Linked DNA regions of Homo sapiens: region 1 is linked to region 2. Evidence: fine-mapped expression QTL. A gene starts in region 2. The other region holds a variant in brackets. All regions are shown on one strand. Distances are between the middles of the regions.

What was found. PIP is the estimated chance that this variant, and not a neighbour inherited with it, causes the effect. A credible set is the group of variants that fine-mapping cannot tell apart.
Region 1: its variant is the best candidate, but not a certain one, in a credible set for the expression of MTRF1L in whole blood (INTERVAL, PIP 0.52).

Annotation. Positions count from the first base shown.
Region 1 is chr6:152,958,229-152,973,848 of GRCh38, forward strand. It overlaps FBXO5 (F-box protein 5), which reads right to left. Exons shown (of 5, transcript NM_012177.5): 3 at 14,818-14,908; 4 at 14,044-14,226; 5 at 12,307-13,186. The coding sequence ends at 12,935. It also overlaps the pseudogene C11orf98P2. Among named protein-coding and RNA genes, the nearest start is that of FBXO5, 17 kb to the right of the region's middle. The variant T/C (reference allele first, on the strand shown) is at 11,525.
Region 2 is chr6:152,994,899-153,011,119 of GRCh38, forward strand. It overlaps MTRF1L (mitochondrial translation release factor 1 like), which reads right to left and starts at 7,811. Exons shown (of 7, transcript NM_019041.7): 1 at 7,529-7,811; 2 at 3,652-3,731; 3 at 238-421. The coding sequence starts at 7,787. RGS17 (regulator of G protein signaling 17) reads right to left here. Exons shown (of 5, transcript NM_012419.5): 5 at 9,561-16,221. RefSeq lists silencers at 7,559-7,618, 7,629-7,738 and enhancers at 7,968-8,968, 8,059-8,168.

The DNA.
Region 1 (15,620 bases), 37 kb before region 2:
TTGTTTTTGTTTTTGTTTTCGTTTTTGAGATGGAGTCTCACTCTGTCGCCCAGGCTGGAGTGCAGTGGGGCAATCTCAGCTCACTGCAACCTTCACCTCCCAGGTTCAAGCAGTTCTCTTGCCTCAGCTTCCCACATAGCCAGGATTACAAGTACGTGCCACCACACCTGGCTAATTTTTGTACTTTTGCTAGAGATGGGGTTTCACCATGTTGGCCAGGCTGGTCTCGAACTCCTGACCTCAAGTGATCCATCCACCTTGGCCTCCCAAAGTGCTGGGATTATAAGTGTAAGCCACTATGCCCAGCCATGTACATGTTTGTTTATATACTGTGGGTCCCATTCACATCTTAAATCTCCTCCCAGTGGTGTGTTTTTTACTATTATAATGAGCAATGAGTCAGTCTGCGGACAAGTAAAATTAAAATGTGCATACTGTCTACAGGATAAATTTCCTGGCCAGGCACAGTGGCTCATGCCTGTAATCTCAGCACTTTGGGAGGCTGAGGCGGGTGGATCACTGGGTCAGGAGTTCGAGACCAACATGGTGAAACTCCGTCTCTACTAAAGATACAAAAATTAGCTAGGCATGGTGGCGCATGCCTATAGTCCCAGCTACTCCGGAGGCTGAGGCAGGAGAATAGCTTGAACCTGGGAGCCAGAGGTTGCAGTGAGCCGGGATCATGCCATTGTACTCCAGCCTAAGCGACAGAGCGAGACTCCATCTCTAAAAAAAAGAAAAAAAGAAAAATTCCTACTGAGGATAGTTCTGTGCTTGATTATGAAGCCAGTAGTGAGTGCTCTTTGTTTGTTTGTTTTCCAGAGTGCCAGGGTTTTATCACAAATGGAGTTGACTGCTAGAGAGGCCCTTCTCCAATCTTTCTTCTGTACCCTCTTCTCTCCCAAAGACATCCCTCCAGGGGAAGTCAGTAGGCCATTAGAAAGGAGGAAATATGGAGAGTGAAAAGGGGCACTGCTTTTGTCAACATCCTCTGAAACAACCACTGAGTCCTTTGGGCTCCAGTTGAGAATCTTCTAGTGGAAGAGGTTTAGCTCTCATCTTCAAGGTCCTTCATTTCTATGTCCTGGGGGACTTTTGTCCTCTTTTGCATTTTGAGCTGTGGTTCGATAGTCCTGGCTGGCTTTGACGGGCTTCCACCTCCATGGCTGCCTTCTCCATCTGGGCAAGCCGGATCTGCCGGAGGAGTTTTCTAGGCTTCTTCCCCTACAGAGTAATGTTGGCACGTGCACTGGATGCCTGCTTCTTGAGGTGGTGCCGCGTGATCAGCGCTTGATCTATCACAGCTTCGACCACCCAGTGCCTCAGACGCTGCTTGCGGTTCAACACCGGCCTGCGCTGATCAGCTTTTTCTTCAGCTCGGTTCGGCGCCAGTTGATTTTTCCCCCCGGGATCCCCCACAGTTGCTCGGCGACGCCAATATGCGGTCCGTACTTCCGCCTGGGGTTTGTTGTATTGGTGTGGTTTTCACTTCCCGAGGACATGGTTGTGGGGCTTGCTGTTGTGGTGCAGTCGCTGAATCCCAAAGACATGGTTACTTCCCTGACTACCTATCTTGCCTCAGGAATGTCTATGCTATGCCTGTCCCACCACTGTATTTTGGAAGCACATAACGCTTGGAAGCACATAACTTGCTTGATTCCACAGGCTCATGCCTGAAGTAAATTGCCTCCTTGCCATCCTGCCTTGACTTTAGCCTATATCTTATTTAGATGAGACTCTGGGCTTTGGACTTTTGAGTTGATGCTGGAATGATTTAAGCCTTTTGGGGGCTATTAGATGAAATGCATGTATTTTGCAAGAAAGACATGAATTTTGGGGCCCAAGGGAACAAAAAGGCTATGGTTTGAATGTGTCCTCAAAAAAGCATGTGTGGGCTGAGCACCGTTGCTTACACCTGTAATCTCAACATTTTGGGAGGCCAAGGTGGGAGGATTGCTTTAGCCCAGGGGTTCAAGACCAGCCTGAGTAACATGGTGAGACTCTGTCTCTACCAAAAAAAAAAATCATAACAAAAACTTAGCTGGGCATGGTGGTGTACACCTGTAGTCCCAGCTACTGGGGAGGCTGAGGTGAGAGGATCAGTTGAGTCTGGGAGATTGAGGTTGCAGTGAACCATGATAGTACGACTGTACTGCAGCCTGGGTAACAGAGTGAGACCCTCTCTCAAAAATAAATTAATTAATTAAAAGCATTTGTTGGAAACTTAATTTCCAATCTAATAGTGTTGAAAGGTAGAACCTAATAGAAGATGTTTAGGCTATAAGGGCTCCACCACTTATAAGTGGATTAAGGTTGATTACAAAGGGGCTTCAGGCTGCAAGTTCAATCTCTTGCCCCCCCTTTTTTTTTTTTTTTTTTGGAGATGGAGTCTAGCTCTGTCACCCCCAGGCTGGAGTGCAATGGCACGATCTTGGCTCACTGAAACTTCCACCTCCCAGGCTCAAGCAATTCTCCTGCCTCAGCCTCTGGAGTAGCTGGGATTACAGGTGCATACCACCACACCCGGCTAATTTTTGTATTTTAGTAGAGACGGGGTTTCATCAGGTTGCCCAGGCTGGTCTTGAACTCCTGACCTCAGGTGATCCGCCTGCCTCGACCTCCCAAAGTGCTGGGATTACAGACGTGAGCCACCGCGCCCAGCCTTCTTGCATTTTCTTTGCCCTTTTGTCATAAAAGAGTGCAGCAAAAAAGGTCCCTGTCAAATGTCAGCCCCTTGATCTTGGACTTCTCAGCCTTCTGAACAGTGAGCCAATAAATTTCTGTTCATTATAAATTACCCCGTTTCAGATAATCTGTTATAGCAGCACAAAATCAAGTGAAAAACTTGGTGAATAACCCTATTAATGTCTTATTGAATTCAGTTTACTAGTATTTTGTTGAGGATTTTTGCATGTATGTTCACCAGAGATTTTGGCCTATAATTGTCTTTTTTTGTAATGTCCTTGACTGGCTTTGATTTCAGTAAAGTTGCAGGATACAAAATTAACATATTAAAATTAGTATCATTGCTATACACTAACAACAAACTATTCACAAAAGAAATCAAGAAAACAATCCTATTTGTGATAGCATTAATGAAAAACTTAGAAATACATTTAACCAAAAATAAAATTAACCAAATACATTCAGTGTATGAGAGATCCATACACTGAATATTATAAAACATTGATGAAATAAATTTAAGAGAAAAACAAATGAAAATATATACAGTATTCATGGATTGGAGGAATTAACATTGTTAAAATGTCCATATTACCCCAGTGATCTACAGATTCAGTGCAATCCCTGTCAAAAGTGAAATGACCTTTTCCCAGAAATAGAAAAGAACAACCCTAAAGTTTGTATAGGAAAACAAAAGACCTCAAATAGTCAAAGCAATTTTTAGGAAAACAAAGCTGGAGGCATCACAATACCTGACTTGAAAATGTACCAAAAACGTATAATAATCAAAACAGCCCATACTGTCATAAAAGCAGACATATAGACCAAAGAAATAGAAAACAGAGCCCACACATTTACAGTCAACTGATTTTCAGCAAAGCTGTCAAGGACATACAATAAGGAAAGGACATTCTCTTCAATATGTTGGGAAAATTAGATATCAACACCCAGAAGAATGAAATTAGACCCTTAATCTTGTCCCAAGTACACAAGTCAAATCATAATGGGTTAATGTCTTAAATATAAGATCTGAAACTATAAAACCATTAGGGGAAAACAGAGGGAAAGAGCTTCTTAACATTGGATTTGGCAAAAATTTTTTGGATACAACCCCAAAAACACATGCAACAAAAGCAATATTAGACTAATTGGATTGCACCAAACTAATGAGCTTCTGCACACCAAAGGCAACAATCAACAGAGTGAAGAGACTATCTATGGGATGGGGAGAAAATATTTGCAAACCACATATCTGATAAGGGGCCAATATCCAAAATATTTAAGAAACTCAAACAACTCAATAGCAAGAAAACAACCAGTTTAAAAAATGGGTAGGAACCTGAATAGATATTTCTCAAAAGAAGACATGTGAATGGCCAACAGGTATATGAAAAGATGTTCAACATCACTAATAATCAATCAGGGAAATGCAAATGAAAGCCACAATGAGATATCGTCTCACTAGAATAGTCTTTATCAAAAAAATAAAACATAACAAGTGTTAACAAAAATGTGGAGAAAAGGGAACCCTAGTACATTGTTGGTGGGAATGTAAATTAGCATAATTATTTTGGAAAACAGTATGGAGGTTCCCCCCAAAATTAAAAATAAAACTATTGTATGATTCAACAATTATCTTTCTCAGTATGTTACCAAAGGAAATGAAGAGATATTCCCTCCTCCATGTTCATTTCAGTATTATTCATAATAGTAAAGATATGGAGTCAACCTAAGTGTTTATCAACTGATAAATGGATAAAGAAAATGTGATATATATACATAGCATGATACTATTCAGCCTTATGAAAAGAAAGATATCTTGCCTTCCACATGGCAGTCTTGCAACAACATGGATGAATGTGGAAGACATCATCCTAAGTGAAATAAACCAGGCACAGAAAGACAAAAGACAAACTGAATGATCTCACTTTTATGTGAAATCAGAGTAGAATGGAGGTTACCAGGGACTAGGGTGGGTGATAGTGAGGTGGAAAATGGAGAAATATTGGTTAAAGGATAAAAAGCTTAGTTAGATAGGAGGAATAAGTTCTGGAGATCCACTGTGAAGCATGGAGGCAATAGTGAATAATAATGTATTGTATGTATATTTGAAGACTGCTAAGAACATAGATTTTTAAATGTTCTCACCACAAAAAAAAGATAAGTATGTGAGGTGATGGATATGTTAAATCATTCTACAGTGTGTGTGTGTGTGTACATATATCAAAGCATCATGTACCCCATAAATATATAGAATCATTTGTTAATTAAAAATAACTTCAAAATGACAAAAATAAAGATGTTTTCACATGTACATAGGCTGAAAAAAATCAAAGACCAGCATATCTGTATTATAAGAAAAATTAAAGGAAGTCCTTCAGGCACAAGGAAAGTTTTATCAGATAGAAATATATTTATTTCTACCCAAAGGAATGAAGATACCAGAAATGACAACTGTGTGGGCAAATACAAGTATAAGAAAACTTTCTCATTACATAAATATCTTAGATGATAAACAAAGAAACAAAAATAATGTAGTGTATGTATATATTTGTGTATATATATACACATATATATTGCACTAACATGTATGATAACAGCACAAAGCTTAGAGGGAAGAAATAGTATGGCAGTTTTATACTATATATAAAAGGGTACAATAATATTTGAAGCTAGACTCAAGTTAAAAAGAAATACTATAAATCCAGAGGTAATAGCTAAAATCACAAAATAGAATTATAGCTAATTAGCTAATAAACTAGATATAAAGGAACCATAAAAATAATCAAAAGATGGCAAAAAAGAGAAAAAAATGGAATAAAGAACAATTACCAAATAGAAAACAAATATCAAGAAAGTAGGTTTAAATCCAACCATATCAATAATCCCATCAAGTGAAAATTGTCTAATTATCTCAAAAGACAAACATTTTTGAAGTAGATTAAAAAAATAAATGAATACTTGACTATATGCTGTCTGTAAGAAACACACTACCATAGAAAACTACAAAAAAAGTTAAAAATGGATGAAAAAATATACTATGCCAATATTAATTTCAAAAAACAAAACAAAACTGGAGTGCTTATTTTAATATAAAACAATGTAGATTCCATAGAAAAGCCACATCCAGGGATAAAAAGGTCATTTAAAAATGATAAAGTGTTCATTTCACTAAGAGAACATAATAATCTTAAATATTTATGCAACTAATGACAGAGCTTCAAAATACAGACAGCCTCTGACTTACAAATTTTCAACTTTACAATGTGCAAAAGGGATACACATTCAGTATGCTTTTTGACTTATGAAGTTGTGCACAGATAAACACACTGTAAGTTCAAACAGTGGGTGTATCCAGACATAACCACATTGTTGAGGAGCATCTGTACTTAAAAGCAAAAACTGATAGAATTACAAGAAATAGACAAATCCACAATTACAGCTAGGGATCTGAATACTTCTCACTCAATAATAGCACAAATAGATAGACATCAGTAAGGATATAGAAGATATGGAGAGCACTATCAACCAAGTTGAACCAATTGATATTTATAGGTCATTTTACCAAAGAACAGCAAAACACACCATATTCCCTTCATAGAGCGTATTATAGGCCAAAAACAAATACTCAATAAATTTGTAAGAATTGAGTCACACAACTGTTTTCTCTGACCACCATGAAATTAGAAGTTAATAAAAAGATATATGGACAATTCCAGAATATTGGAAAAGTAAATAACAGACTTATACATAACCTACACATCAAAGAAGAAATCCAAAGGAAAATTATAGAACACTTACAAATGAATAAAAAGAAAAGGACAAAATATCAGATTTAGTGGTATGCCGCTAGAATAGAATTTGGAGGAAACTTTTAGGACTAAATATTTATATTAGGAAAGAATAAGGGTCTGAAATCAATGAACTCAACATTTACCTTAAGAATCCAGAAAAAGAATGTAGAAAAAGGGCAAATTAAAGTCCTTCAGGCACAAGGAAACAGAAGAAATAAAACAAAAAATCAATTATAAGGAAAAACAGGGAAAAATCTGAAACCAAAAATGAGTTATTTGAGATCCATCTAAGTGATAAACCTGTAGTCAGACTGATCAGTATAAGGGGAGAAAAGACAGAATTTATCAATATTGGAATGCAAGAGATGACATTAATACACATTCTATAAATATTAAAGATACTAGAATATTGTGATGACTTTATTCCAATAAATACAATAAATTAAATTAAAAATGCATTGAAATATACAAACTACTAAAGCTCACTCAAGAAGAAATAGATAACCTGAATAGCCCTTTATCTATTAAAAAACTGTATTTCAAACATCTTTTCACAAAGAAAATGACAGACTCAGATGGTTCCCTTGTACAATTCCAGCAATAGTAAGAGAAGAAATAATACCAATTCTACACAAACATCCAGAAAATTGAAAAGAAAAGAATATGTCCCAAAGACATTGTATGAAAGCTACAGACCAATATTCATCATAAATATAAATACAAATTCTTAACAAATATATATTTATACATATTTAAATATATAATAATGTTTAAAAAGGATAATACATTGTGATGAAGTGGCATTAACCCCAGGAATGCGAGATTGCTTTAACATTTGAAAATCAATCAGTGTAATTCATATTAACGAATCCAGAGAGAATAACCATATGGTCATATGAATTGATGGAGAAAAAAAGTTGACAAAATCCAACAGCCATTTCTGATAAAAATTCTCAACAAACTAGGAATAAAATGGAACATCATCTTGATAAGAGGATATGTGAAAAACCTACAGCTAACATCATTCTGAATGTTTTCCCCTAACATCTGGAACAAGGCAAGGGTATCTTCATCAACATTTTTTATTTCTATTTTACTGGAGGTTTTAGCCAGTACAAATTGGCAAGGAAGATAAATACAAACCATATAGATTGAAATGGAAGAAATAAAACTGTATTTATTTGTAGAAGACAAAAATCACCTACAGAGAACAAGTGATAGACTTTCAATTATAACTGAGGTTTGCAAGGTTGGAGAATACAAGATCAATATAAGAATAAATTGTATTTCAATACATTAGCAATAAATCATTGAAAATTGAAATTAAAATGCCATTTACAATAGCACAAAAAACAGGGATAAATCTGATGTAAAGTGCACAAGACATACAATGAAAAGATAAAACTTTGCTAAGAGAGATTTTGAAATATGGAAATCAGTGGAAGAACTCTATGTTAATGGATTGAAAAACTCAAGGTTGCTAAATGTCAGTTCTGTATAAATTGGTCTATAGATTCACTGTAATCCCACTGAGCCCACGCCCACCCGGAACTGGCCCTGGCCCACAAGCACCGCGCGCAGCCCCGGTCCCCACCCACGCCTCTCCCTCCACACCTCCCCGCAAGCTGAGGGAGCCGGCTCCGGCCTTGGCCAGCCCAGAAAGGGGCTCCCACAGTGCAGTGGCGGGCTGAAGGGCTCCTCAAGTGCCCCCACAGTGGGAGCCCAGGCAGAGGAGGCGCCAAGAGGGAGCGAGGGCTGTGAGGACTGCCAGCACACTGTCACCTCTCAATGCTATCCCTCCCCCAGTCCCCCAGCCCCAACAGGCCCTGGTGTGTGATGCCACCCCCTTCCCCTCATGTCCATGTGTTCTCATTGTTCAACTCCCACTTATGAGTGAGAACATGTGGTGTTTTGTTTTCTGTTCTTGTGTTAGTTTGCTGAGATTGATGGTTTCCAGCTTCATCCATGTCCCTGCAAAGAACATGAACTCATCCTTTTTTATGGCTGCGTAGTGTTCCATGGTGTATATGTGCCACATTTTCTTTATCCAGTCTATCATTGATGGGCATTTGGGTTGGTTCCAAGTCTTTGCTATTGTGAATAGTGCCACAGTAAACACACGTGTGCATGTGTCTTTATAGTAGAATGATTTATAACTCTCTGGGTATATACCCAGTAATGGGATTGTTGGGTCAGATGGTATTTCTGGTTCTAGTTCCTTGAGGTATCGCCACACTGTCTTCCACAATTGTTGAACTAGTTTACACTCCCACCAATAGTGTAAAAGCTTTTCTATTTCTCCACATCCTCTCCAGTACCTGTTGTTTCCTGACTTTTTAATGATCACCATTCTAACAGGCATGAGATGGTATTTCCTCGTGGCTTTGATTTGCATTTCTCTAATGACCGGTGATGATGAGCTTTTTTTCGTATGTTTGTTGGCTGCATAAATGTCTTCTTTTGAGAAATGTCTACTCATATCCTTCACCTACTTTTTGATGGGGTTTTTTTCTTGTAAATTTGTTTAAGTTCTTTGTAGATTCTGGATATTAGCGCTTTGTCGGATGGATAGATTGCAAAAATTTTCCCCCATTCTGTAGGTTGCATTTTCACTCTGATGATAGTTTCTTTTGCTGTGCAGAAGCTCTTTAGTTTAATTAGATCCCATTTGTCAATTTTGGCTTTTGTTGCCATTGCTTTTGGTGTTTTGTTCATGAAGTAATTGCCCATGCCTATGTCCTGAATGGTATTGCATAGGTTTTCTTCTAGAGTTTTTATGGTTTTAGGTCTTATGTTTAAGTCGTTAATCCATCTTGAGTTAATTTTTGTATAAGGTATAAGGAAGGGATCCAGTTTCAGCTTTCTACATGTGGCTACCCAGTTTTCCCAACATCATTTATTACATAGGAAATCCTTTCCTCATTGCTTGTTTTTGTCAGGTTTGTCAAAGATCAGATGGTTGTAGTTGTGTGGTGTTATTTCTGAGGCCTCTGTTCTGTTCCATTGGTCTATATATCTGTTTTGGTACCAGTACCATGCTTTTTGTTACTGTAGCCTTGTAGTATAGTTTGAAGTCAGGTAGCATGATGCTTTCAGTTTTGTTCTTTTTGCTTAGGATTGTCTTGGCTATGCGGGGTCTTTTTTGGTTCCATATGAAATTTAAAGCAGTTTTTTCCAATTCTGTAAGAAAGTCAATGGTAGCATGATGGGGACAGCATTGAATCTATAAATTACTTTGGGCAGTATGACCATTTTCACCATATTGATTCTTCCTATCCATGAGCATGGAATGTTTTTCCATTTGTTTGTGTCCTCTCTTATTTCCTTGAGCAGTGGTTTGTAGTTCTCCTTGAAAAGGTCCTTCACATCCCTTGTAAGCTGTATTCCTCGGTATTTTATTCTCTTTGTGGTAATTGTGAATGGGAGTTCACTTGTGATTTGGCTGTCTGTTATTGGTGTATAGGAATGCTTGTGATTTTTGCACATTGATTTTGTATCCTGAGACTTTGCTGAAGTTGCTTATCAGCTTAAGGAGATTTTGGGCTGAGACGACAGGGTTTCTAAATATACAATCATGTCATCTGCAAACAGAGACAATTTGACTTCCTCTTTTCCTAATTGAATATCCTTTATTTATTTTCTTGTCTGATTGCCCTGGCCAGAACTTCCAACACTATGTTGAATAGGAGTGGTGAGAGAGGGCATCCTTGTCTTGTGCCGGTTTTCAAAGGGAATGCTTCCAGTTTTTGCCCATTTGGTATGATATTGGCTATGGGATAGTCATAAATAGCTCTTATTATTTTGAGATATGTTCCATCAATACCTAATTTATTGAGAGTTTTTAGCATGAAGGGCTGTTGAATTTAGTTGAAGGCCTTTTCTGTATCTATTGAGATAATGATGTGGTTTTTGTCATTGGCTCTGTTTGTGATGGATTACGCTTATTCATTTGCATGTGTTGAACCAGCCTTGCATCCCAGGGATGAAGCCGACTTGATCATGGTGGATAGGCTTTTTGAGGTGCTGCTGGATTCAGTTTGCCAGTATCTTATTGAGGATTTTTGCATTGATGTTCATCAGGGATATTGGCCTGAAATTCTTTTTGTTGTCTCTCTGCCTGGTTTTGGTACCAGGATGATGCTGGCCTCGTAAAATGAGTTAGGGAGAATTCCCTCTTTTTCTATTGTTTGGAATAGTTTCAGAAGGAATGGTACCAGCTCTTCTTTGTACCTCTGGTAGAATTTCAGCTGTGAATCTGTCCCTTCCTGGACTTTTTTTGGTTGGTAGGCTATCAATTACTGCCTCAATTTCAAAACTTGTTATTGGTCTATTCAGGGATTCGACTTCTTCTTGGTTTAGTCTTGGGAGGGAGTGTATGTCCAGGAATTTATCCATTTCTTCTAGATTTTCTAGTTTATTTGTGTAGAGGTGTTTATTCTCTGATGGTAGTTTGCATTTCTGTGGGATCGGTGGTGATATCCCCTTTATCATTTTTTATTGCGTCTATTTGATTCTTCTCTTTTCTTCATTAGTCTGGCTAGCGGTCTATTTTGTTGATCTTCTGAAAACATTAGCTCTTGGATTCACTGATTTTTTGAAGGGTTTTTCGTGTCTCTATCTCCTTCAGTTTTGCTTAGTTCTTTCTTGTCTTCTGCTAGCTTTTGAATTTGTTTGTTCTTGCTCCTCTAGTTATTTTAGGTGTGATATTAGGTATCAATTTTAGATCTTTCTGCTTTCTCCTGTGTGCATTTAGTGCTATAAATTTCCCTCTATACATTGCTTTAAATGTGTCCAGAGAATGATACCAGAGAATCTGGTATGTTGTGTCTTTGTTCTCATTGGTTTCAAGGAGCATTTTTATTTCTGCCTCAATTTCGTTATTCACCCAGTAGTCATTCTGGAGCAGATTTTTCAGTTTCCATGTGGTTGTGCGGTTCTGAGTGAGTTTCTTAATCCTGAGTTCTAATTTGATTGCACTGACAGCACCTTACTTGTAACAGCAGGAAATGGAGTAAAGAGCCAAACATCCATCAACTGGTGAACTGGTA[T/C]ATCCAACAGCATACTGCCTTGTAAGAAAAGAGCATTAACTACTGATGCACACGCACAGATGAGTGTCAAAATAGCCTTCAGTGAAAGCAAACTGACTCCATTTATAGAAAATCCTTGAAAAGTCTGCAGTGACAAAGATCAGTGATTGCCTGGGAGTTGACAGGAGGGACCCTCTACCTTAGGTTTTTGTTGAGACGAAAGGCAAAGCCCTTAAACATCTTTGGGGCCCAACTGATAGCATCCGAGGCCCACCCTTGAATCTTTGGAGGGCCTAGTCTGAATTCAGCCTCTTAGGATTTCCCCATATTCGTAATTGAAACTGAAACATAACTAACTTTGGAATTAAGGAATAAAGACATCCTTGTTCTGGGCTCTTGTTATTAGCACAAATGTTTGACTGCAGCCAAGATGGCATCTTATTCTATACAATTTAAATCCTTCTAGCTTTTTGAGGGGGATGGGGTGCTATTTAATCCATAGTTCAGCTGGTTTAGTGATAGACAAATTAGCACATCAGTATTTATCAGTGTCTTTTATGGCCTTCCTGTATTGAATCATCTCGAGATGTTTATCTCAAGACCCAACCCCACAACTACTGAATTAAGCTATTAAGTGGGAAAAACCGGGATCAGGGTACTGCCCAAAAATCTCACAAGCTCCCCAGAAAAACCATCACAAAAATCCATTCAATGCCTTCACACAAACGCAGTCTACTGCAGCTTCCTAATTCAGTTGTTTCCAGGATTACAATGTTTATAAAAGGTATACATTAAGCTTACAATTTTATTGAGCAAAATTTATTTTTATATGTACATACAAGAGACATATTCTTTGACATATAAAAAATACAGAAATATTTACATGTATACAAAAATATTAAAACAGATTTCAGAAATAAGGAAAACAAGCAAGTTTTTACAAAGGATACTTTCTTGGGAAATACACACAATGAAAAAAAGCTTTAGAAAGGTGACAACACATTTAATAGACTCCAGAAGTTGATATTTCTGTTGGTATCAATTGAGTAAGAGGAACATAAAATGTCTGAAATGCTAACAGATGGAAAACCAGACATATTTAAGACTGTCTAGGTAAAATTGCATGGGTTTCCTTTACCATAAAATTGAATCAATTTTTTTTTACCCTCAGTATCACTATCTACTTTTCCTTTTTTCTTAAAATATTTAAATTGTTTGATTTGTATTGAGAATTTTAAACTTTTTCTCATTAAATTGTAAAAATATTTTAAGAGGTTGTCTATCCTCTTTATCTTCTGGGGGGAAAAAAACCTCAGGATACTACACCGATTTCAACATAAAATTGAAAATCACAATACAATTTTTTTTAAGTTAAAACCTAACATTTTCTAACTAACATTCATGATCAGTAACAATTGATTTAATAAGAGATCACAATCTTCGTAAATTCTTTTTGCTTTTCTTTGTACCAGGCAGGGGACCTATTTTACAACTGGCTTTGAGGAGCTTGCCATCTGAACAGTCTTTAGTAGTATGATAATTACAGAGACACTTCGTACAATAATCAAATCCACAGCCTTCTCGTTTGCAGGTTGCCCGTTGTAAATAGCAATCATATTTTGCAGGTGAATTACAGCGAATACAGGCTTTGAGGCTTTCGTTCTTTTTCAATGTCTTGGCAACCTAAAAAGAAAAAAAAAACCCATTAACAAATTTCAGCAAGAATTACATGTACTTTAGTTAATAAAACCAAGGACACCCTTGCACCTTCCCCAATTCATGTATGAAATATCACTGTCACACATACGATAACTACTGCCCTAACTATTGCCCTTTATCTATGCATTATCTGATAGATGCTCAATAAATGCTTTTTGAATAAATCTGTATGTTGCATTAGTCATTATGGCATAAAATTTAAGAATAGTTTTATTATGTAGGATTTATATTTACTGATCAACATGAATCAGAAAATATTCTATAATTTTGGTAAGTTATCTAAATTAAGCTTGCAAAGTTATCTACATTTGAGTAGAAATTTTAGCACACATCATTCACTGATCTGAAGGTATAATAGAAGGCCTTCAAGTTCAGAAAGCTTGCCTTTTTCCACTTAACTCTCTTCCTCGGTTCTTAAAAGCGGAAAATGCAAAATGTAGTACTGAGTAATTTTATAAGAAATCTAGGTTTTTCATTATTTCTTCAGTGTTTCTAAATTAGAACTCAAAATCACTGAACTTTCAAACAATGCCAAGCAGTACCTAATATTCATAGAAATACATTTCTACGTACTTTCCTAATTTCATGTTTCTTTTGTTTTCCACATTGAGAGCGAAATGAAGAGGACACTAATGAAATCCCTAATAGTTCTAATTATACTATAATTAAATTTAAATGATCATTAATATCAGGTTTCTTAATGTCAGAGAATAAATTAGTTATTATCTAGAGCAAAGTTACATTTTGACCTTGAAAGTTCTTTTACATTTCTTACTCTAAATCTCTTATGTTTTAAGATTTATGATTAGACAAAAAATTACCTCAGAGAATTCATTGTGTCGACTATAAGTAGAACCTTTCTGATCACCTTGATTGGATAACTTGGTTTGAGCATCTTTTTTGAGAGAAGTCTGGGCTGCTGATTTCTGAACAGAAGCCAGTGGGGTTCTGAACATAACATATTCTCTGGTTGAAGCATGAGGTGAAAATTTATTGTTGTTTTCCTAATTTAAAAAAAAGTTTTAATAGAATTTAGAAATTATTTCCTGTATCCTCAATGAGACATTTTTATGTTTGTACATATAAGAAATGACAAACAAGATTAGGTAAGAGACTTATCCCTACATGCAATTTACCTGCACGTACTTAAACAAAGCAAAACCTAAATACTCACACATATCAAGCCTAACTTATAGACAGAAACTGTGAACCAAATACTATGGGAAATCACTTTAGATGCAGTCTATATGGTACTTAATACCTAAAAAGTAAAACAGCTTTTCCAAATTTTCCAGATGTTATAAAATACACATACACACAACTGGCAACTAAGATTGACTAAATGGTCGACTCTATCTGAGAAATGAGTAATTTTCCCTTTGTTACTTTAGACATTCTATTTCTAGGAAGAATCCAAGAAATAAATGTTGAGTTGAGATTTCTTTATTTTTGAATGTGGTTTCTAAGTTCCAGTATAAGGCTGAAATACTTTATGACTGTAAAGAAGGGTTTCCAGATTACCTCTTTTCTTTTCTATTTCTAGAAGAGCACTAACAGTGCATTTTTAACTAAAAACATCATCTGCAAACACTTACGGTAACTCTTTGTATTGCTTTACTGTACAACTGGAATGCCCCCTTATCATCTTCTAGGATCTTCTTCCAAGTTGTGCTCACTTTAGACACACTGGAAAAGTAAATCACCATAAATGAAATAATTAAAGCATCACAAAGAGCTAAGATGAATACAGTAGAAAAACATCAGCAGTGCAAAAAGATATTTTATATTATTAGTGCTTCTCAAACCTGACCACATTACAATTGCCTGGCGGTTTTAACTGGTCTAAAATGAAGCTCAGGGCTCTGTATTTTTAAAAAGCTCCCTCCTCATTAAGTAATTCTGAGTGCATTGAGGCTTAAGAACCACTGCTTTGTACAGTATTTTTTCACAATATCTGCAAACATCAAATAGTAGCCCCCACTGTATATATGATACCATGTTAGCTATCTGGTAAAAGTAATAGACAAATTTCAAAGTACTCTAGGCACACTGCTATTAGAAATCAACTTTAGAAACTCACTATGTTAACAGAAAAAGTAGAATCTGTGGTACTGATTTGACTGTCCCTCAAGAAGCTGTTTAGGCTCATGCCTGTAATCCCAGCACTTTGGAAGGCTGAAGCAGGCAGATCACGAGGTCAAGATATCGAGATACCCTCCTGGCCAACATGGTGAAACCCTGTGTCTACTAAAAATACAAAAATTAGCTGGGCGTGGTGGCACACGCCTGTAGTCCCAGCTACTCAGGAGGCAGAAGAATCACTTGAGCCCGGGAGGCAGAGGTTGCAGTGAGCTGAGATCGTGCCACTGCACTCCAACCTGGTGACAGGGCGAGACTC
Region 2 (16,221 bases):
CATCTAAGACTACTTTTAAAGACTGTTAGCAATTTGATGGTTAGTATTATTGAAAGACTCTCCATTAGATTTTATAGGTCATCTCAAAATTACTGTATGTGCATTCAAATTTATTAGGTAAATGATGAGCATAAAACTACATAAGCATCCTCACAGATAAGTTCTAAAGCCTAGTCATGGTCTTTCCAACTCTTTTCCTAAACACTTTACCTGAAACAAAATGAATAGTTTACTGACCTAGTTCACTTGGAAAATATTCCAGGGTTTCAAAATGCCATCTTTTAAATGCAGCATATTGCTGATACATATCAAATATCTCTGATGTAAACAACATTGCCTCCTGACCTCCAACTCCTGCAGTTACTTCCAGGATCAAATCATTTTCATCTGTTTCTTCTGAGGGAACCAAAAGTAAGATAATCTGTAAATATAAAAATATCACCCCTCCTATAATTAAGATTTAAAATTTATCAAAAAATAAAAAGCTAAATGATTCAGGAATTTTAAATATTTAAGTTTCGCCAAGCAAATAATGTAATATTGCTGAGTACTGTTCAACCACCTTGCCAATTAGAACTGTATAATGTGTAACTTCCATAAAGTATTAATGTTACAACCATATTATAAATGCTGTTAAGATTCAGCTAAAATTTCAGGCTTGTTTTATTGTCTGTTGGAGTTCTTGTATGCTTTGTATCAGTTCTCTCTTCAGTTAATAAGAACTAAGTACTTGCTCTGATTCGGAGATTATACTGTTGTGGAAAGCAAAAGAAGATTCTAGATCCATCCTCTTGAAAATTAAGGCCTAGTATGGCAGAAAACCAAAAGCACTCAAAACTACATTTGTATTATTTTAAGATTTCTTATTATGGAAGAGAAACTTGTAATTTTGAAACTAAAAAGGCCCTTAGAGATTATCTGGTCCAATTCTTTAATTATACATGTAAAGGAAACAGAGCTTAACAGAGATTAAATGACTTGTTTAAGGGCAAAGTGTTAGTTACTGGCCAAGCAGGCACAAGAACACAAACCTTTGTGCCTAGATCAGTCTTCCCTCCATTACAATAGTGTGTTTCTAATCAAGGGGATCTAGAACAAACACTTCTTAGATTAGGTCAATTAATAAGAAAAGCTACCAACATTTTATTGGTTCTTTAATATATGGCAGGCATTCTAAGCACTGTACATACTGTAATTCTTAAAACAATCTTGGGTAAGTATTATTAACAGTTCTACCTTAAGATGTGAAACTAATTTTACAGGGGTTGAATAATCTAGTGGCTCAACATTACCCAACTCAAAAGTTAAGTGGAAGAGCTAGAATTGAACCTGAATATACCTGAGTACACTGCTATCACACTTGACATTGGTCAGAAGCTATGCTAGTTACTACTTTTCCATCTCTCTAGCCTATGCCAATACAACATTATCATTCAAATTTTGAACAAATAATGGATTTTACTTCTGTTTGTTGATTACTAGACACTGAACAGAAACATTTAATACACATATCCTTCTTATTCACACAAAATTTAATTTAGAAAATGGGTAAAATGCGAGCTATACTACACTTTTCACCTTATAGTGGAATTCTCCCCCTCTAACATAGGTTATAGGAACATTAATTTTTAGTAATTTTCACATTTGCCTAAAGGGGAAGCAGATTCTCAAAAATAAGTACCCCCTTTCCTGGCTCCTTCCTTACCTAACATATTCTTTCACTTATCCCCAACGGTAATTGCTGTCAACCTTTAGTCTCTGCTTTACAGAATTAGCAAAGAGTGGCTCTAATTTCATATAATTATTCTTCATTAACTCTATATGTTCTGTAATTCACAAAGATGTACAACCAAAGCAATGTAATCCAATTCTTAAAATCGTGAGGGCTTACTCTAGGTCTGGTATTCCAAATAGTGTCAGAGATGCAAAATAAGTATTCCTGGCCCTGAGGAGCTCACAGTCTACTATCACTCTAACAGGGGACTTCAAGAAGTTGTATTTCAAAGTTATTTTGTAACAAAATAAACTCGTGCTAACTTGTTATAACAAGTCACAGGCTCTAGTTTGAGGTACTAAAAAGGGTATCAGTTTGCAAAGAGCCCCATCAGAGCAATATGAACTCTGTTAAATTGAAGCAAGAACAAACATTAAATTGCTGGTGAAGCTTGGGTGGAAGAATGGTGAAATCATTGATGCTTTATGAAAAGTTTATGGGGATGATGCCCTGAAGAAATCAGCAGTTTACAAATGGATAACTCATTTTAAGTAGAGACAAGATGATGTTGAAGAAGAAGTCCACAGTGGCAGACCATCTGCATCAATTTGTGAGGAAAAAAATTATCTTATTCATGCCCTAATTGAAGAAGACTGATGATTAACAGAAGAAACAATAGTCAAACCACAGACATCTCAACTGGTTCAGCTTATAAAATTCTGACAAAAAAATTAAAGGTGAGCAAACTTTCCACTGGATGGGTGCCAGAACCTTTGCATGCAGATCAGCTGGAGGCAAGAGCAGAGCTTTCAATAGAAATTTTAAACAAATTGGATCAAGATCCTAAAGCATTTCTTTGAATTATAACCAGAAGTGAAACATGGCTTTACCAGTATGATCCTGGAGACAAAGTACAATCAAAACAATGGCCACCAAGAGGTGGAAGGGGTCGAGTCAAAGCAAAAGCAGACTGGCTAGGGGCAAAAGTCATGGCAATAGTCTTTTTGGGGATTCTCAAGGCACCTTGCTTATTGACATTCTAGGGGCCAAAGAACAGTATCTGCTTACTATGAGGGTTTTGAGAAAGCCAGAGTTTTAGCAAAATACCAGGGACAGCTTCACCAGAGTCCTCTCCTACACCAGTGCTCCTGCTCATTCCTCTCATCAAACAGGCAATTTTGAGAGCTTCAATGGGAAATCCATAGGCACTCATGTTACAGTCCTTATTTGGCTCCTCCTTTTTTTTGTTTCCTGATCTTAAAAACTTTGTAAAGGGTACCCATTGTTCTTTAGTTAATAATATAAAAAAGACTACATTGACATGGTTAAATTCCCAGGACCCTCAGTTCTTTAGGGATGCATTAAATGCTGGTATATCACCTTTTTGCTTACCAAAGTGTCTTGAACTTGATAGCTGGTGGCACTTATGTCAATAAATTAAAGTTTATATATATATTTTTTTATCTTTTAATTCCAGTTTTCCACAAACTTTTGAAGTCCTTTCATATAACCTCTTCTGCCCCATGTCTACCTCCAGTCTTCTTAAAAAAAAAAAAAAAAAAAAAGGGAAGATATGCCACTATTTCGCTGCCTTTCCAGAAAATACTATCACTGTGACATTTATCTTTCTGTGAGAGCGCTACAGTACTTTTAGTATGATGAAAACAGGACCATGTGAAGTTTGTTCTTTAAAAACCAGTTTATTGATAGTCATAATCATTTCAAAATGTATGCATATATCAAAACATCACATCATATACCTTAAATATATGCAATTTTGGGGGTCAATTTATACCTCAATAAATCTAGAAAATAAATTTAAAAAACCCAGTTTATTCTAAACAGTAACAAGCTAGTCACTTGTTTTTATAAACCTTTAATAAACTTTAATGCCTAAGAATAGCACAAATGCTTTATTCTTTGCAGAAATACCATACCTGATGCTTCAGCTGAGTTATTTCTTTTTGACACAAAGTGATTTCATTCTCTGCAAGTTTCCTTAAATCTTCATTCTCATCTAGGAAAAAAAGGGCAGAAGTTAAGGTTTTCCTTAATTAGTGTTAAATTGCTAGCAGACTTCTAGGAAATAGTTTTATGGTTATTATAGCTGAAGGGAAAAATAAAATGTATATCTTGTCCTTTCAATAAATACCATTCAATAAATGCCTTTCAATAAATGTCCTTTCAATCAATTTCACCATTTTATACATTAGTTTTCATAAGCATGTAAGTATAAAATTTTTTTTCTGATAAAGTACAAGTACAAATTTCTATAAAAATATAAAGAAGCTAAACTCTTCCATAATTTCATCTCCATGAAATATTCACCTTAATAAATATGCTTTTAGACTTCCAACTTAGACTGTATAATAACGAATGCATTTAGCTAATAAGACAGAAGGGATACAGAAGGTTACACCAGTAAAACTAAAATTCAATTAAAAAGTAGAAATTTATTCTCTTATAAGCAAATGTTTCATTAGTATTTTAGTATCCACCCAAAAACATTTATTAGATTCTGCCTAATGTATACAGAATGTTTATACGAAGTACTCCTCTGTCTCTCTCTCTGGCTTTACCTTTATTGTTGTTTCATCTTTGAATTTTCATTTTTACCTTATAAAACATACTTTCTCATTCCTCTACCCTATAGATGATATGCAGCATATATAAAGGAGGAGGAAAGGGAAAATTTCTGGCTATTAACAAATTGTTCTCTCTATTGAAAGTTCAAACCCTTACAAAGCATCAGTTTGTATGCTTATCTATTAAGAAACAACCATGCTGGGAAGTGGGATAATACATATATAAGACCTGCCCTCAAGAGAGCATTATAGATAATTTTAGTTTCCTTATATTTTTCTAGAAGAGAAAAACAAAAAATAACCTAAACCCTTATGTGACATGGTTTGGCTGTGTCCCCACCCAAATCTCATTTTGATTTGTAGCTCCCACAATTCCCACCTGTTGTGGGAGGGACCCAGTGAGAGGTAACTGAATCATGGGGGCAGATATTTCCTGTGCTGTTCTCATGATAGTGAATAAGTCTTACAAGATCTGATGGTTTTATAAAGAAGAGTTCCCCTGCACAAGTTATCTCTCTTGTCTGCTGCCATGTAAGACGTGCCTTTTGCCTTCCACCATGATTGGGAGGCCTCCCCAGCCACGTGGAACTGTTAGTCTATTAAACCTCTTTTTCTTAAAAATTACCCTGTCTTGGGTATGTCTTTATCAGCAGTGTGAAAACAGACTAATACACTATGTGATTAAATATTAAAACAGTTGTGCCTTGAAGGAATCTGTTGGTTTTGGAATGGGCAGAAAAAGGAAAAAAAGATTAACTCAAGGAGAGAGAATAACAACAGCAAAACTGAGATAAGCAAGTACAGGAAGCACTGCTGAAAATTATTTTGGCAAGCATATGGTATGGAAGAAATTTGGTAGAATGGAAAATGTGTTAGGAAAAGCAAAAATGAATTCTAGCCCTAGCTTAATCGCTAAGGTACTGTTAGGGCAATAGGCTCAACTTCTTTCAGTTATGACAAGAATGAAATGAAAGTTCTGAGCTGGATAATCTCTAAGGTGCCTTTCAGTTCTGCAAAGCTAAGGAGATTGGAACTAGAGTCTAGAAGTAATTTAATTTTAATACTATATTTTATTTAACCCAATATGCTCCAAATATTATTTCAACATGTAATTAACATAAACATATTACTTTTTATACCAGGTGTTTGAAATCTATATGTATTTTACACTTACACACCTCAATTCAGACTAGCCACAAATTGCTCAACAGCTGTGTGGCTACTGGCTACTATATTGGACAGTGCAGCTCTAAAGGGTTTAGAATTAGGAGTTACTCACAGGCAATGGTAATATACTACTTCTTTAATTTCTCTTGAATATTATAAATCAACATATGTTTACTGGACACCTACCATGTGCCTGCCTTCCCCTTTGCCTATAAAGATGTTTATGGTTTCCCATTCTAAATGGGTCCTTTTCTTTTCAACCCTTTAAGTAGCTGCTTATTGTCACCCCTCTTTTCCCACCCAGATTTCTGGAGATAAAATGCCATTTTTATAACTTTTCTCCTGTTAACTCTAATTTACCTCTCAAGCTGTTACACTGGATTCTATAATCATATCAAGACCATTTTTATTCAAGTTACCAATGACAAAATTGCCAAATCTAAAGACTTATTTCAGTGTGAGCTGAAAAGGTTGTTTTACCTTTCTATGTCAGGTACTACGGATTTTTTTTTTTTTTTTTTTTTTTTGAGGCAGGGTCTTGCGCTGTCACCCAGGCTGGAATGCAGTGGCACCATCTTGGCTCACTGCAACCTCCACCTCCCGGGTTCAAGCGATTCTCCCACCTCAGCCTCTCAAGTAGCTGGGACCACAGGCACGCACCACCATGCCCAGCTAATTTTGCATTGTTTGTAGAGACAGGGTTTTGCCATGTTACCCAGGCTGGTCTCGAACTCCTGGGCTCAAGTGATCGGCCCACCTGAGCCTCTCAAAGTGCTGGAATTAGAGGCGTGAGCCACCACGCCTGGCCAAGGATCTCTTACTTCTTGAAATTTTCTATTGGCTTCTACAGCTTCATTTATTTATCTACTTCAGGGTCACAAAGCTCTGGCTGTTTTTTTCTTGACCTTTTATAGCCTTCTTCTCTGCCTGCTCCTCAAATACTGTGTATTTCTGGCCTTGTTAGACTTGTTTCTATCTTAACACATTTTCCCTGAGTGTTCTCATCTACTTCTAAGGTTTAATTTACCACGTACTGTATATCTCGAGAGCTCTCATATGATTATTTGGGCTCAATTTTTCTCCTATGTCAGTAATTTTTTCTCCTAGACTAGTACAGATATCTTTATTGGAATTCCTTTTCACAGGTATTTTTAACTTAATATGGCATTCAATGCAAAACTCATCTTTTTAAAAAATTCGGTCCAACTTTTATACTTTCATCTTAATTAACAGTACCACTCGTGCTGAAGCCAGAAACCTAAGACTTTTCTTAGAACTAACTCTCTCCCTCATCCTTCTCAGGGCATAAGCCACTAAATCCTAACTTGTTTCTCAAAATGTTTTGTGAGTCAGAACTATGCCTATCACCATTTCTTCTTTGGATTGTTTCAACTGCCTCCTCCCTGGCCTGTCAGCCACCAGCGTTTCTGGAGAATACTCCAATTTATCCTCAGCGCATGCCACCATTAACTTTTCTTTACAAAGACGTGAATTCTCTGCTTAAAAACATTTGCTAACTTTCCATGGTCTATAAAAAATAAATCCAAATTCTTTGTCTTGCAAGGTTCTTAACTATTTTTCTGGCTTCATGTTTCTATGACATCATCTCCCACCTATTCTATACTTAGGCCATACTGAATTTCCCAATTTAGTACCTTTACCCACGTATAGGTCTGAGATTCTGAGTCCTAAGTCTGCTATTAACAAGCACTGCCCTGATACTACTGCAAATGGGTCTCCACACCACACTTTGAGAAACACCGCTGTGGAGCCCATCACAGGGACAGTGCCTTATTTATCCTTGCTGAGCTAATGAGCTCTTGCCCGAGTCCACAACTAATAAGCATGTAAAAGGCGGCAGAGCGCCGTGGCAAAGGAGCACAAGAGAGCCCACAGGAGAGGATGGGATCACAGCACGTAATGATGTCCTGACCTCTGATCCAAAATAAAAACGGCTGCAAGTGAGTAAAGAGTTTCAAACTCGGGTAGTGTGGGCAGTGGAAAAGTCAAACGAAGAGTCAAGAATGTGCTCTGACGCCTCTCCCCCGGGCCCGACCCTTACCGTGCAGCAAGTGCTCAGTCTCCCGCAGCTCCCGCTCCTTCTCGTTCAGCAGTTTGATCACCGCCAGCAACTCGGGCCTCCTGACCTTCAAATGGGCTTCAGACCCCGCCTGGCGCTCGAGGAAGGTCCGCAAGGGCCCGCCCCGGGTGAACAGCTCCTCCAGCGGCGGGCTACCGGAGCTCAGGGGCCGGCGGGCTGGGCCAACGGCCCGGCGGGGCCAGAGCCACCGGGCAGCGCCCCACAGAACCCGGGACCGCATCCTTAGTCCGAGATCGCGGACCCTGACCGGAACCGGAAGTTCCGGACACAGCAGCCCTCGCGACAACACCCAGAATTTGGAGATAAGGGTGAGAGCGCACCAAGCCCCGCCCAGCGCAAGCGTTGCTTTTTAAAGGATTTTCCGGAAGCCTTGGCGGGAACTTCCTGCCAAGCGTGAGAACGCTGCGAACTTCCCGGAGGCCAAAAGTTGAGGGGGCTGAGCGGAGCGTGATTGGGGAGGGGCGGGCCTGGGAGACCTTGGGCGCCTCCTCTGAAAGCCTCTTGGTAGGTATCCGGTTGATGGGTGACGTGTTTGGCCGGAAAGGGAGAGCAGCAGATTGCCCCTCTGTTTTCTGATAGTGAGGATTTCTTTCCCATGCACTGAGTCGGGGCCTCCAGAGCCGCAGTGCAGGGCAGTCGAGGGTCCGCTGCAGGGCGGAGGTCACAGCCGCGCAAGTCGTCAGTCTCCGGTGCAGGGCTGCCGCTGAGTCTTCAAGAGCGAGTTTTATTATGGACAGGCGTGTGTTTATTCCTCCTCCTTTTTTCCTGCTTATGTTTCTCTTGTCCACGGTGGGTGAGGTTCGTGGTAATAAGGACTTGATAAGTGTATTATGAGATAACCACTGAATGAATTTGCACAATAGACGTGCGTGCCCTTCATCTGCCGCGTCATTTACTTGCTTTCAAAGGACTTTATTATTCACCTGCCCATTCATTTTCACTTAGTCCCACTTATCGTCAGCTTTTTAAAGAGGTGGAGTGATTCCGTGTTACAGCAACCTACAGCCCAACAAAGCCTTCAGATATCTGCCTCCAGGAGTCCAACCCTCATCCCTTTCCAAAGAACTGGTAGCGGATAGGTGCCAGCAATACCGACATTTATTGGCACAATGCTTTGCACTTTTCAAAAGACCTGTTCACAGCTCAACGGAGAAATAAATATGAGGGAATAAACACAACCAAGACAGTCCTGGGAATGCAAGGGCTAAACGCTCAATCTGAGAACTGCCACTACCTAACTGGTTTGGGCAGCGTCTACTAAGTGGTATTTCACTGTTGAGAGAGGTGATATATTAGAAGTACGAAACTTCTAATTTATTCATAAAAAATAAAATGGTAAAAAATGGGAACCCTTATCAAGGTTAAAATATCCTTAGGTCATCTAATCGAAACTGTTAAGTATAAACATTCTTAGAAAATAACGTTTGCATTGCCTCTCTCTTTTCATCTCTTAGCACGATAACAAATGCAGAGTGAGTGGAAGAATGAAATGACTCTTCAAACATCAGGAAGCAAAAATAGTTTTTTGCTACTTAAAGGCTCCACCTAATTATCTCAGTTCTTTTCACTTTGTGTATTCAAGCTACACAACTTTATACAATCGTTCTGCTGTTGAAACCCATTTTATTTTAATCCTGATCTGAGGATAGAACAGGACTGATCAGGATGTTTTTATCTCTATTAGAACAATTGTTTCCCAAGTCTGAACTTAACTTTGAATTTATCTTAACCATGGAAATGGTGAGAATCACTTGAACTCAACATGGTATATCTCTCAGTTGAGTTCTCAGAACATAAGTCATTTCAACAATATATTTTATTATTTATAAAAGGTGAAACATTTTAATAATTAAAACCTTATAGAACAATGTAAAGAATCTAGCCAGAATTTTATTTTCCCCCAAGTGCATAAGCAATTTAAGTAACACATAGAAGTGTACCTTTTATTCCTATAGTGTTATATACCAATGAGGAAACAGTAACTTTCTAAGGATACATTGTTGAATTCTTTATTAATTCAAAACATTTTAAGAAAGTCAGTGTAATGCATATGCATTTTACAATAACATCCATAGGTTTCCACAATCTAGTAAAATGAAAACAGCTGTATTTTGATTTACTTTGAAAACTCAAACCTATAGTTCGAGACTTCTGAATATTTTTACATTACTGTCATGCTCAAATTCTGTTACATGGTGAAAATTCTAGCATTTTCCAGAAGTATATTATTGTACATAGGTAAAATGATAAAATTGATTCTAGGAAGGGGGAAAAAAAAACCCAGAAAAACTTAAATTGGAGGAAACATAATCTGGATTATCTATTCAATTTGTGAATACCCACCGTTATTCTGGCATTGCAAAATAACCAAGTGTGGTGCCTCTTAAGTTGCATTCATGCATTCAAAACTTCTTTATTGTCCACTGATAAATATTGGTGGAGTACAATATATGGATATAGATTAAGTGTGATGAACATGGTAGTAAAAAATTATACACATTCGATATGTAATTTTACAAAACCAAACACATTGAATTCTTTTTAATATTTAGCAAACATTTAAAAATCATATACAAGAAAGGTGTTTATGACAAATCGGTTAAAGCTAGCGGGAAATAGGTCTTTTACATTATTTCAATATTCAGTGTTCATTGATTAGTGGAGGGCAATATAAAAATGCAATAAGCAAAATGGTTAGTTTAAATTTAAATTACCTCTTATGACAATTAGTAAGATAAGATCTTTAATATCCAAAGTATGTGGAGGATTATTGTAAATTGCGCAGACAGTTCAAGGGAAAAATTCACTTTCACCTCTATTAGGTGAATATTCAGGCTAAGACTTCTGGAGTTTTATTTTTCCACTTCACTGTATTTTCTTTATAGCATTTATTAGTAATCACTTAGTGGAACCTAATATTAGTGTTTAGAATTTGTTTAGCTCAGTGTAAATGTCCAGAAAATTTACCTTCAATATAATCTCTTTAAAAACGCATTACTTTACAGTGGAGAAATATAATAGATGCTACCTCAGCTAAGTGATCAAGGTTAACATCAACAGCTAAGAGTAGCCTAAAGTTTGAGAAACTGTCACAGCTAAGACGAGTCCCGGTGATGGCATATACCTTTGATACCATGTGATGAGCATGGCACTTTACCGTTGTGTTCTTTCAAAAACCAAAAACCTGTGTCTAGTCACGAGAAAAACATCAGACGAATCCCCATAGAAGGACATTCTACAAAATACCAGTTTATTTCTCAAAACTGTCATCAAAAACAAGGAAAGTTGCAGAAACTGTCACAGCCAAGGGAAGCCTAAGGAAACATGACAACTAAATGTAATGTGGTATCCTGAATGGGATCCTGGGACAGAAAAAGGACATTAGGTTATAAACTAAGGAAATCTGAATGAAGTATGAATGTAATGATCAATATTGGCTCATTAATGCCCATAGATGTATATGGGACCTCTCTATTTGGAGTTTTTCTGTAAATCTAAAACTACTCTAAAATAAAAGGTTTAATGGACACATTACTATTTTAAATTTTATACATTTTATTTTTTTCTTAGAGTCAGGGTCTCACTTTGTTGCATAGACATGTCTGGAACTCCTGGGCTCAAGTGATCCTCACGCCTTAGTCTCCCAAAGTGCTGGGATTGTATGCGTGAGCCACCGTGCCTGGCCCATTACCACCTTTTATTAAGTTTTTATTTTCATTGTAAAATTGTTAAAGAAAATCATACCACCTTAATATTAAAAAGAGTGTTTTCTAATTGTCAATCTCTTATAACTTAGTCTTAGCCCTATAACTCATTTATATATTTAGCAAGTAATTTGATATTATTTCTGTCCTTGGGAATGTTGTTTTATTTCCTTTGGAAATAAAACTTTCAAATGATTGATCTTATTTAAACTTTAATTTTAACCTATAATTGTATATCCATTTATCATCTATCTATCATCTATCTATCAATCATCTATCTATCTATGTCATTGAAAGAAACATTTCTATAGATTTGAGGTGATGGTGAACTGAAAGTACTGATTTGGGATCACATTATTGAGAAAAGCAGTAACACTGATATAGTGTTCCATCTTAAAACATGATTGTATGTTTTGATGAGTAGCTAAATCAGATGTTTAACGTATGTTTTGGAAAAAAATAGGGGAAAGTGCATTAAAGTGACATTTAATACAAGTATACAATAACAATTATTGACGTGATGCACTTTGATAAAATAATAATGTATGCCACACTTTATTCTTTCCACGTTTGTTTTATTTAATGCTCATAGTTATCCTGATAATTACGTATTTTATTTGTCATTTGCAGATGAGGAAATGAACTCAGAGAAGATAAATGATTTGCCCAAAGTCACATGAGACAGAAATATAACTTGAAATCAAATTTGTAATTTTAAGTTCCTGATGTTTTTACACTATGCTCCCTAAGTGAATCTGTGGACATACATTTCCATTAGTAACCTTACTCATCTTATAGCTTTTGTCATAGGAAGAAAATCAGTTCCCAAACTGGGACCTTCTATCACCTAGGGCAACATTTTGCCTTTTGTAGTGTTTTCAGTAGAGTCAAAGTCTTGAACAGCCTCTTGAATTCATCTGAAAAGATGTTACTTGGGGCTGGAGAGGACTACACCTGTAAGAGTAATAATTTCAAAAATACCTATAAATAAATCAAATCTGGGTATTCAGAAATAATACTTGTCATTGTGCACCATCTTGTGTTGCAAGGATATTTTAAGCACTGCAGGGAAAATCTGAAGCAAGTTTTGGGTTATCAGTTTTATTGATAAATATTTGCAGTTGTAGCAAGTGAAGAATTAAAAATTTTTGCAGATTGGATATTGTTTTTGCAGGAGAACAAACCCATTGGTCAGAAATTTGAAGATGGAAAACACAAAAATACATGTTTGAAAAATATACTTAGAAAATTATGGTTGTAAACTGTCAATGTAAACAGATAGGCGAAAATATTTTTTGGAAATATCTTTACCATCTTTCAAAATAATTAGGCAATGTGTCAAGATCAAAGTATTCAAAATACATGTTTGATAGGCTTCTATCTATAGGCATTTTCTGTCTAAGACTTAAAAATATTATTATTATAATTATTATTATTATTTTGAGATGGAGTCACTCTGTTGCCAAGGCTGGAGTGCAGTGGCATGATATCAGCTCACTGCGACCTCTGCCTCCTGGGTTCAAGCGATTCTCCTGCCTCAGCCTCTCAAGTAGCCGGGATTAAAGGCACCCACCACCATGCCCGGCTAATTTTGTATTTTTACTAGAGTCGGGGTTTCACCATGTTGGCCAGTCTGGTCTCAAACTCCTGAGCTCAAGTGATCCGCCCTCTTTGGCTTCCCAAAGTGCTGGGATTACAGGCTTGAGCCACTGTGCCTGGCCAAGAAATTTTAGGTGGTTTTCAAATACGTTTTATTTTTGACTTTTTTGATTGTATTTTAAATTCCTTCTCTTTTACATTTCAACACCAAAGCATCTAATAATTGGTATTTTTTGAGATATAATTTGTCACAATTACAATATGATTTTTTAAAGTATAAATAAGTTAAAGGTATAGAAAAATGGATAAACTCAAAAGTAAAAATCAGGCATTATTTTAAATTAGCTTAATGGGATGAAAATGTATTTTTGCTCCTAATAAATAAATATTATTCACTTATCCCTATAGTCCTTTGGCAAAACTGAACTATCAGGTAGATAAACAACACGTATTTCATTCTGTAAGTCAGAACCTAGGCAGCATTAAAGGATACTAATAAACATCCATGCACTAAGACGGCATATCAGAACTGGTCATTCTATGTACATATTTTAAGATTTCAAAAAAAAAAAACATCACATTATGGTCTTGACTTCTGCATTTCGTAACTTTAGTATCAAAGTTGTGTTTTGCTCTTGTTGTTCATGTGCACACTCCAACACTGTCAGAGCATCTCTACTACCTTTGGATAACATCATAACAGCCCGAGTAAAGAAGTGCCATCCATCCATTACTGGTGTGATTAATGTACAAGATCAATCTCTGAAGAAATCTGGCTCTCCAATTTATTTATATATACATAATCTGTATCCTCTACTTTCTTTTATAGATACATCTAAAGTTAGGCACTATAGAAAGTGCATTAATCTCTTTCTGTGTGCATCAGCAAATTCTAATAGTATACAAAGATACCTTGGCAATTGAAAACACAAAGTGTCCATTTTAAAGTGCTAATTTTTCCCCAGGGAGGAATTTACTCACTAGGAAAACTCAAATTCTAAGAAAACAAATATTGTGCTCTTGGAATGGTAGCATAGACACCAGTTGAAGGCTCTTTTGTTTATTTATAATAGCTCTGTAACTTAAACAGAAGGAATTATATCATACTTAGAAAATTAGTAGAGTTGCAAATATACAGACATACTCTTAAATGAGAAACCCTCCCCTCACCCAAAAATACGAGTTTAGCACAGAAATGCTCACATAGCATGGTTATCAACATCTGATGTGTAAATCTGCTCTCGAATCTTTTTTAACTCAACTTCCTCATCAGGTTTCAAAAGGATATACCAACTTTAAAATCTGTGTTCTACAAATGCCCAGGTTAGAGATTAGGACTCTTTATAACGGCCCTTATCTTTTACATTTGGTAAAATATTAAAGATATTGTCAAACAGACAATTCATCTAATAGTCCAAAGTATCTTATAAAGATAACTTATGACTAGCAGGTCACCATCATATATAGTAACAACGAGAATATAAAGTCTACATTTAAAAAGATGGATGCATGCAGTGTATCACAGTATATTACATATTTTCTAGTCATGTGCACCAATTTGTTGAGCCTCACACACAGAAACAAATATGATACTACACCATACATGTGTATATATCATAGTAGCATAATAAACTCAATTCTAAGCAAGAAAAAAATTAAATAATTTAGGAACAATAGAACTTCACAATAGAAGTGATGATTCTTTTAGGTTTTTCTTTACTCTTTAGGAAAAAATATGACTTTTTGTAAACATCTTCATAGCTATCTTTTTTTCAACATATTACTGAAAACTTATTCAAATAGTATTTAAATGACATGAATAAAATATGTCTTAACACACTAACACTTTCAGAAAACACAGGCATTTGTTAAAAGAAATGATTATTATAAATATTTTCTATCTTGCATTTTAACTGCATTTTCATAAATAACGTATTTAAAAGTGCTGAATATGGTAGGATAGTCAGCAACGCCAGTGTAAACAGAATATTTTGTTTTCTACTCTGCAATTTTTAAAAAATCCCATTTTGTCAAACACTGCAACAGTTAAAATATTTGCATAGGGAATAGATAATAGCCCTTTTATTCATGTCTCCTGAATTCTATATAAATTAGAAAATCATACTTGCTTAAAAAAACCATTTTTGAAATGTTTTAAGTTTATGGAAAAAGAAACTTGTGATGCCAACCTTTCAAGTAAAATAAATTTAAAAAGAAACCCCCAAACTTGTTTTTTTAAAAAATATGTTTAATAAATTAAAAAATGAGAGGTAGTTAAAAAAATGACAAAGAAAACCTGTAACTGTAATATCATCCTTAATATAAGGCCAGTGTTCTCAGTGGATATAAATCTTTTTAAAACTTTCATTTTAGGTTACTCAGTATTATATTCATTCAGTTTAATATTAAAAAAATAGTCTTCAGGGGATATTAATATTCAAATGTAACACTTTGATATAAATATGACACTGATTATTTTAATTATCACTTTTATGCATGACAGAATATTGTTTCCTTGAAGGTCAGAAGTACATGACAATGTCAGGCAAGTGTTTTGTCGTAAAGATTTAGTGTACTTATAAAAAATAATATGGCAGCTGGAAGATTTGAGCACTGTACTGCCTTTTAATGATGGATGAAAACTAATAGTTTGGTTTAAACATCTTTAAAATGTCATCCTTAAGATATTATGTGAAAACAGTTAAGGTCTGAAGTAGAGGATTATTTTCTTCATAACCCTTATAAAACTTTTCCTGGTAAAAACTTAGCTTTTCATTGGATTTCACTTTCAAGGAAAATATGCCACAGGACAGATGCTATTCATCAAAATGTTTTACAGTGCTACATGTAGGCATTCCTTTATTAAGTCCTTTTCTTTATATTCCAAAACTAAGTTATCAAGCTTATTATTATTTTTTTCTTGCTGAAGTACATAACTTTACACAACCATTTTAAAACTGGAGAGCCAGTCTTTAATAAATTAATTACAGTATTGGACATCTGATATATACATAAATTCATTTTCTTCTATTACAGTTAAAAGCAATATCACTCTTTTGATTTGTCATTGAGATAGGATATCTTCAAATTGTTTTGTGCTTTTTTCCTTCTTCCCTTTTTTTTTTTTTTTGTTTTTTGCTTTTAGCATAGTAAACTCTCCTGTAATGAAAATGCCACAGTTTTGGCAGTGAACAACCAGAGGAATCCCCATTAGGATTTTCCAACAAACAGAGATAAATAGCTCTTTTTCATGTACAGAAATATTGGCTTCAAAATTAGTGTACTAAACACAGTATATAGAATGTTGAATACCATTGTTACATAGTAAAAATTGCTTTTTTTCTGTCTTAG